Homo sapiens: one gene and its partner. The protein of the gene in region 1 interacts with the protein of each later gene in a pairwise test. Each region holds a gene or a part of one and is shown in the gene's direction. Other genes may lie near its edges.

Region 1 (4,664 bases):
TCGACTTAGAACAATAAAATTGATAAACCTTTAGTTAAAATTTGTTGGGCTGTTAGTGATGAAAGTGTAATGTGCATTAGTTTTAATAGATAAAAATCTAGCTATAGGTTCCAATATAAGTAGTAATTTAAATCAGAATCTTAGAGGAATGTTTTTACTTCATTCCTTACCTTTCATTTGTTTTCATAGCTTTATATACCAGTCTGCTAACCTTCAGTCAACAGTAAGTCAGTTGAAAACAGTAACAATAATTAAACCTGTTTTTGTTTTTAGTTTAGTCACTTTTCTCAAATATTTGGAGTGCCTCTCAAGAGGTGTTCCACTCAAATATTACTATTATTTATGAGATACATCCAAAATAACTTATAAAAGGAAAATTTGTGAATACCTTTTAACAATCATGCTTTGCTTTTCCACATATGTAAGGGTTTCATTTCTTTTTTGCATTCAACTTATAATTTATGTCTGGAAACTTGGGCATGTCAGTATTTAGTGGCATCACTTAACATCTATTGTCAGTAAACTGTCTTTTAGAAGTTCAAGCAGTATTCATACATCAAAGCCCTTGTGTTAGGGATGGATGACTTGCTCCAAAACAGTGACACTGAACACTAGTTGGGAGGGTTCTTTACAATAATGGAGTAGGCAGCAGTCATTTAAAATAAAGTCATTTAAATGGCTTAAGTGAAAAGGAAGCTTACAGTAACAGCAAGCTAATATTTCTTAGGTGCAAATATACGAAGAAGACTTCAAAAAGGAACGATCGGATCGAGAGAGACTTAATCAAGAGAAAGAGGAGCTACAGCAAATTAATGAAACTTCCCAATCCCAGTTGAACAGGCTGAATTCCCAGGTACAAGTCAAAACAAAATAATCTTTGCCAGCATGTATGTATATTTTTTTCATTTAAAAAAATTCAAGACGTTTGGACTTCTGTTAATTGACATTGAATTTTTTTTTAAAGGTCAGCACCTGGGATGAAGTCATTCTTAAACAATCTTGTAAAGAGATGAAAATGACTGGAAATTTCTTTTAACTTAAGTATATTAAGGAATTGCCCAAGAAATTGCATTCCAAAGTTTTTTTTAATAAAATACAGTCCTTTTGATCTTTTTCTCATAATATTTATCTTGGTAGAATGAGAGTTGAACTACCTAGTACTCAAATAAAGTGAAGTGGTTTTTAAAATTCTTGTCATTTTCTTTGAAGGGCTATGTTGGAATGCTCCTGTCTGCCAAAAACATACGTATTTCTAAATGCCATTTATATGTGAGACTGAGGATTTTGTTCAGTGGTTCCCAGATGTAATGTAACTGGAGTACTTTGAAGGAAGCCAGATAATGGTCACCAGTTTATTAAAATAGAATATATTAAATGTAAGCATACTAAAATTAAGTGTAATTGAACATATTAAAGTAGACTCAGGAAGTTGCCACGATGGGTAAATAGTGATGTTAATGAAGGAAAATGTAGCTAACATAATTTTGCCTTAAAAAATAAAACAAACTGCACCATTTTTATTTGTAAAATATTGCAATACATTTAAATAAATAGAACATTGTTATGAGAATGCTGTGGCAGCACTTAGCTTCAAGATTCTTCGTCATAAAAAAATTTAAAACAGTCATCATTTTCTTCCAAATACAAAGTGGATTGTGAATTAAATTTAATTTTATCTCTGATTTTTTTAAGATTAACTTGAAATTCTTAATTTTACATGGAAAAAATTGTTTTGCAGAACCATTTTCTCTGTAAGAAATTAGAAAAAATAAAATAGTAGTAAAAAATCAAATAATTTTATGAAAGTAATTCAGGCAACCTAATAAATAATTCATACAATAATAGGTAAGACAATGTTCTGATTACTCTTGGTAAAAAAAAAGAGTATATATTGTATATTCTCTCTCTCTCTTTTTTTTTTTATGAGATGGTGTTTTGCTCTTGTTGCCCAGGCTGGAGTGCAATGGCATGATCTCGGCTCACCGCAACCTCCACCTCCCAGGTTCAAGCTAGTCTCCTGCCTCAGCCTCCCAAGTAGCTAATTTTTTTGTATTTTTATTCTTTTAATGTGTTTCTTACATGCCCAACTACTCTAATTTCTTTTAAGTTGTCTCTGCACAAACTGTTTTACTTGCTGCCAGTAAAACAGTTTTAGAACAAAAAATATTTGTTTTTTAAAGCAATTTTAAAATTTGCTGCCAGTAAAACAGCAAGTAAAACAACTTTAATTTTAAAACAATTTTTAATAATTTATTTTTATATGATAAATTATATATCAATATATAATTATATTTAATTAAATAATTTTATTTATTCTACTATATTAAGATTGGTGATAGACTGGCAATGTCCTTGCCATTACAGAACTTTTAGTCTTGTCAGGAATGTATATCTATCTACTTAACGTTGTATACTATAATCCACAAGTCCTTAACTGTGTCACCTGTAAAGTTGATTGGTATCAACAAAATAAATGTATTTTCTAAATGCAGTATGGTATAATTCTGCCTTGAACCTAAAGGACAATCTTAATGATATCTAAAGTGATAGATTAAAGCTATGAAATTTTTTCTTTAAAATAATGAAAGCTCAATCATTTTTTTAAAGTCTCATTTACTCAATAGGAGAATGATAGAATTCACAGAGATGTAATAGATGGTTTGATGATCTGTGTTAAATGTGTTAACAGCAGATTAAATGCTATGATATTTTAAAAAGAACTGACATTACCTTAGTTGAATAACATATTATTTGTTGTCCAAGTGGACTTTTAGAGGAATATTTAGGTCAAATCATTCTGGCATTCTGAGTTGCTTTCTTACCAGAATGTATTCATTCTATCACTGAGGATGCGTTAAGTCAGTGAAAATAAGTAATGTGGTAAAGTGAAAGATGCTTAGGGTACTTAGAAATATGAGAATTTAGGGGGAAAAGACTTGGTGTTCCTGCCTGCTCTAATATTCCATTGGTGGTAACCTTGAACAAGTTATTTAACTTTTCTATGCTTCCTTTTCTTCATCTGTACAATGACAAAGTTGAACTAGATGATCTCTAAAATGCTTCTTATTACTCTAAAATCTCTCTCTAAAAAATAAGTTCCTTAACCTCTTTTAGTATACCTGCCTGTAAAATATAGATAATGAAACCTACCTTGTGACTTCCTAAGTTGTTCTCAATATTAAGTGAAAAAAGCAAAAACAGGCCGGGTGCGGTGACTCATGCCTGTAATCCCAGCACTTTGGGAGGCCAAGGCGGGCAGATCACCTGAGATCAGGAGTTTGAGACCAGCCTGGCCAAAATGGCGAAACCCTGTCTCTACTAAAAGCACAAAAATTAGCTGGGCATGGTGGCACGCGCCTGTAATCACAGCTATTTTGGAGGCTGAGGCAGGAGAATCACTTGAACCCAGGAGGCAGAGGTTGCAGTGAGCCGAGATTGGGCCACTGCATTCCAGTCTGGGCAACAGAGTGGGATTCTGTCTCAAAAAGAAAAGAAAAAAACAAAAAAACGCTTTAGAAAACATTTAGCTCAAGTCAAGTCATGGCTCAGAGGTATTTTATAAATTATTTTAGTCTATTAGAAGAGGGGGCATGTTTAATAGTTTCATTTAGTTTATAATTAGCATGGTACTTTCAGTTCTTTGTAATCTAATTTTGATGCTTTCTTTTTGCAAGGCATTCTGCTATATGCTGTGAGAAAACGAAAACTGGTTCTTGCTAGTAAATAACTCACAATATAGTAAAAGAGACATGTACAGTCTATCCTCATCATCACAAATTCTGCATATGTGAATTTCCCTACTGACTAAAATGCATTTGTCATCCCCAAATCAATACTTGTGGTGCTTTGTGATACATCCTTACATATGAGCAGAGCAGCAAAGTTGTTTCCTGACATATACACATTCCTAGTGTTCTTTTTGTGATCTATTTAGTGCCATGTTTCCTGCATTTTTGTGCTATTTGTTGGTGATTTCATGGTTTAGAATGGCCCACACGTATATGCTGTCATGCTCTCTAGTATTCCTAAGCATGAAGGATGTGATGTGCCTTATAGAGAAAAAGTGTGTTAGAGAAGCTTCATTAAGACATGTTATAGTACTCTTGACCATGACTTCAGAGTTAATCAACAATACATATTAAATAAGTTGTCTTTAATCAGAAACACACATGAAACAAAGTTATGTATTGATCCATTGACACAAATGTTGTGACAAGAGGCTAGCAGAAACTTAACCCAACATTTCTCCTAGGAGCAGTGGTTCAATATTCACTAATTCAGTGTCCGTGGTGACTTTATGGAATATGACCACCACAAGCAGCAAGAATTGCCTGTAAATAGTACACATTGGTCTAAAAAATCACACAGTAAATATACAACACTACATAAGAGGACAGAATAATTCTGATAAGTGGGACTTGGAAAGGTATCATTCAGAAGGGGATATTTGACCATCCCTTATGGGAATGTGGGACATGGAGTGTAGGAATGACAATGATGTGAATGAACAGTCAAGGAAAAGCCAGCTTTCTCTAAATGTGTCTTAAGTTAAGGGAACCCAGGGTAGGTGATTCATCTAGATGAGGCTGGGCCTTAAGTAGTGAGAAGCTGTGGGATATAGCAGTGTGACTTTGAACAAGTTACTCAGAATCTTATGTCTTAGT
Region 2 (4,241 bases), on another chromosome or scaffold:
CATTCACGGGGAACACAACAGTGTAAAAATGTAAACTCAGCTTAAATTATTTACAATTTAGTGCCTTACCTGTAGCCGCCGACATTACAAGCAAATTTGGGCTGCTGTGCTCTGCTTCCCAAATCAACCCTGTAAATTTATAGAATGGAAACAGAAAGTAAAACACCAGTATCAGCAAGAAAATCTACACAACAAAACAGGGAAAGCCCAGAGTGAGACTGGAGACTGTGTTGAGCTGGTACTTGTGTGTGACACTTGCAGTGTCTGTTGGAGGGGGTTAGCGGCAGAGATGTTGGGGAGGTTTGTAGCCTGCCTAGACGGCAGATGAAAGAATGGGTAGAATAAAAGTTTTGAATTTTCCACTTCACTTCATTGCACAATCTGAGGCAGCCCCTGAAAACACGATGCCAAGAGCCCTAGGTAATAGCAGTGTCCACCAGGAAAATTGGGTTTGTTAAGGCAGCATGGCTCCAGAGTTCTGCTAATAACAACCTGAAACCAACAGAGTGGGAGAGGAATTATGTTTTTTAAAAAAATTCTTTCAACAGAACACAAAGACTGGAATGGAAGTAGACTAGGATATCAGAGTGAATCATGCATACTAAGGGTAGGTGTTAGTTCATAGAAATAAATATATATATTGCTACCTACATATATACTTAGAAGATATGTAAACCGTATTTCTTCAATTCAGAGAATAAATCATTTAGGACCAAAGGTTTGCCAAGTGTAGCTCTGGCTGGGGAGGAGCCCCCGTGGGAAGGTGTGCGTCTTCTCCCAGAGGTCACTATCATCGCGGGAGCTCCTGCCCTGCAGGGAGCACCTGGCCTGGCACCCGCAGCCATTCTCTACAAGGGGTGCAGATGCGCAGATGCGCAGATGCTCAGAGGTGACAGAAACAGAGCATCTCCCACCCATTCCTTCATCAAACAGCCAGGAGTGAGGAAGAGGACCCTCCTGAGTGAGGACTGAGGATCCACCCTCACCCACATAGTGGGACCACAGAATCCAGCTCAGCCCCTCTTGTCAGCCCTGGTACACACTGGCAATGATCTCACCCCGAGCACACCCCTCCCCCCAATGCCACTTCGGGCCGACTCAGAGTCAGAGACTTGGTCTGAGGGGAGCAAACACAATCGGCAGAGGATGGCGGTCCAGGCTCAGTCTGGCATCCAAGTCAGGACCTTGAGGGATGACCAAAGGCCCCTCCCACCCCCAACTCCCCCGACCCCACCAGGATCTACAGCCTCAGGATCCCCGTCCCAATCCCTACCCCTACACCAACACCATCTTCATGCTTACCCCCACCCCCCCATCCAGATCCCCATCCGGGCAGAATCCGGTTCCACCCTTGCCGTGAACCCAGGGAAGTCACGGGCCCGGATGTGACGCCACTGACTTGCGCATTGGAGGTCAGAGGACAGCGAGATTCTCGCCCTGAGCAACGGCCTGACGTCGGCGGAGGGAAGCAGGCGCAGGCTCCGTGAGGAGGCAAGGTAAGACGCCGAGGGAGGACTGAGGCGGGCCTCACCCCAGACAGAGGGCCCCCAATAATCCAGCGCTGCCTCTGCTGCCGGGCCTGGACCACCCTGCAGGGGAAGACTTCTCAGGCTGAGTCGCCACCACCTCACCCCGCCACCCCCCGCCGCTTTAACCGCAGGGAACTCTGGCGTAAGAGCTTTGTGTGACCAGGGCAGGGCTGGTTAGAAGTGCTCAGGGCCCAGACTCAGCCAGGAATCAAGGTCAGGACCCCAAGAGGGGACTGAGGGCAACCCACCCCCTACCCTCACTACCAATCCCATCCCCCAACACCAACCCCACCCCCATCCCTCAAACACCAACCCCACCCCCAAACCCCATTCCCATCTCCTCCCCCACCACCATCCTGGCAGAATCCGGGCTTTGCCCCTGCAATCAACCCACGGAAGCTCCGGGAATGGCGGCCAAGCACGCGGATCCTGACGTTCACATGTACGGCTAAGGGAGGGAAGGGGTTGGGTCTCGTGAGTATGGCCTTTGGGATGCAGAGGAAGGGCCCAGGCCCTCCTGGAAGACAGTGGAGTCCTTAGGGGACCCAGCATGCCAGGACAGGGGGCCCACTGTACCCCTGTCTCAAACTGAGCCACCTTTTCATTCAGCCGCGGGAATCCTAGGGATGCAGACCCACTTCAGCAGGGGGTTGGGGCCCAGCCCTGCGAGGAGTCAAGGGGAGGAAGAAGAGGGAGGACTGAGGGGACCTTGGAGTCCAGATCAGTGGCAACCTTGGGCTGGGGGATCCTGGGCACAGTGGCCGAATGTGCCCCGTGCTCATTGCACCTTCAGGGTGACAGAGAGTTGAGGGCTGTGGTCTGAGGGCTGGGACTTCAGGTCAGCAGAGGGAGGAATCCCAGGATCTGCCGGACCCAAGGTGTGCCCCCTTCATGAGGACTGGGGATACCCCCGGCCCAGAAAGAAGGGATGCCACAGAGTCTGGCCGTCCCTTGTTCTTAGCTCTGGGGGAACCTGATCAGGGATGGCCCTAAGTGACAATCTCATTTGTACCACAGGCAGGAGGTTGGGGAACCCTCAGGGAGATAAGGTGTTGGTGTAAAGAGGAGCTGTCTGCTCATTTCAGGGGGTTGGGGGTTGAGAAAGGGCAGTCCCTGGCAGGAGTAAAGATGAGTAACCCACAGGAGGCCATCATAACGTTCACCCTAGAACCAAAGGGGTCAGCCCTGGACAACGCACGTGGGGGTAACAGGATGTGGCCCCTCCTCACTTCTGTTTCCAGATCTCAGGGAGTTGATGACCTTGTTTTCAGAAGGTGACTCAGGTCAACACAGGGGCCCCCATCTGGTCGACAGATGCAGTGGTTCTAGGATCTGCCAAGCATCCAGGTGGAGAGCCTGAGGTAGGATTGAGGGTACTCCTGGGCCAGAATGCAGACAGGGGGCCCCATAGAAATCTGCCCTGCCCCTGCGGTTACTTCAGAGACCCTGGGCAGGGCTGTCAGCTGAAGTCCCTCCATTATCCTGGGATCTTTGATGTCAGGGAAGGGGAGGCCTTGGTCTGAAGGGGCTGGAGTCAGGTCAGTAGAGGGAGGGTCTCAGGCCCTGCCAGGAGTGGACGTGAGGACCAAGCGGACTCGTCACCCAGGACACCTGGACTCCAATGAATTTGGACATCTCTCGTTGTCCTTCGCGGGAGGACCTGGTCACGTATGGCCAGATGTGGGTCCCCTCATCTCCTTCTGTACCATATCAGGGATGTGAGTTCTTGACATGAGAGATTCTCAAGCCAGCAAAAGGGTGGGATTAGGCCCTACAAGGAGAAAGGTGAGGGCCCTGAGTGAGCACAGAGGGGACCCTCCACCCAAGTAGAGTGGGGACCTCACGGAGTCTGGCCAACCCTGCTGAGACTTCTGGGAATCCGTGGCTGTGCTTGCAGTCTGCACACTGAAGGCCCGTGCATTCCTCTCCCAGGAATCAGGAGCTCCAGGAACCAGGCAGTGAGGCCTTGGTCTGAGTCAGTGTCCTCAGGTCACAGAGCAGAGGGGACGCAGACAGTGCCAACACTGAAGGTTTGCCTGGAATGCACACCAAGGGCCCCACCCGCCCAGAACAAATGGGACTCCAGAGGGCCTGGCCTCACCCTCCCTATTCTCAGTCCTGCAGCCTGAGCATGTGCTGGCCGGCTGTACCCTGAGGTGCCCTCCCACTTCCTCCTTCAGGTTCTGAGGGGGACAGGCTGACAAGTAGGACCCGAGGCACTGGAGGAGCATTGAAGGAGAAGATCTGTAAGTAAGCCTTTGTCAGAGCCTCCAAGGTTCAGTTCAGTTCTCACCTAAGGCCTCACACACGCTCCTTCTCTCCCCAGGCCTGTGGGTCTTCATTGCCCAGCTCCTGCCCGCACTCCTGCCTGCTGCCCTGACCAGAGTCATCATGCCTCTTGAGCAGAGGAGTCAGCACTGCAAGCCTGAAGAAGGCCTTGAGGCCCGAGGAGAGGCCCTGGGCCTGGTGGGTGCGCAGGCTCCTGCTACTGAGGAGCAGCAGACCGCTTCTTCCTCTTCTACTCTAGTGGAAGTTACCCTGGGGGAGGTGCCTGCTGCCGACTCACCGAGTCCTCCCCACAGTCCTCAGGGAGCCTCCAGCTTCTCGACTACCATCAACTACACTCTTTGGAGACAATCCGATGAGGGCTCCAGCAACCAAGAAGAGGAGGGGCCAAGAATGTTTCCCGACCTGGAGTCCGAGTTCCAAGCA

Evidence for each region.
Region 2: the proteins of TNIP3 (region 1) and MAGEA2 interact in binary tests that used the Homo sapiens proteins (3 or more experiments, as listed by UniProt).

The regions. Positions count from the first base shown.
Region 1 is NC_000004.12:121,143,238-121,147,901, reverse strand, and holds part of TNIP3 (TNFAIP3-interacting protein 3), read left to right. Parts: intron 1-727; coding exon 728-853; intron 854-4,664. UniProt on the Homo sapiens protein: Binds to zinc finger protein TNFAIP3 and inhibits NF-kappa-B activation induced by tumor necrosis factor, Toll-like receptor 4 (TLR4), interleukin-1 and 12-O-tetradecanoylphorbol-13-acetate.
Region 2 is NC_000023.11:152,751,043-152,755,283, reverse strand, and holds the start of MAGEA2 (melanoma-associated antigen 2), read left to right. Parts: upstream 1-1,441; 5' UTR 1,442-1,496; exon of another isoform or gene 1,497-1,742; intron 1,743-1,892; 5' UTR 1,893-1,971; intron 1,972-2,770; 5' UTR 2,771-2,890; intron 2,891-3,461; exon of another isoform or gene 3,462-3,559; intron 3,560-3,709; 5' UTR 3,710-3,775; intron 3,776-3,855; 5' UTR 3,856-3,920; coding exon 3,921-4,241. UniProt on the Homo sapiens protein: Reduces p53/TP53 transactivation function through recruitment of HDAC3 to p53/TP53 transcription sites. Also represses p73/TP73 activity. Proposed to enhance ubiquitin ligase activity of RING-type zinc finger-containing E3 ubiquitin-protein ligases.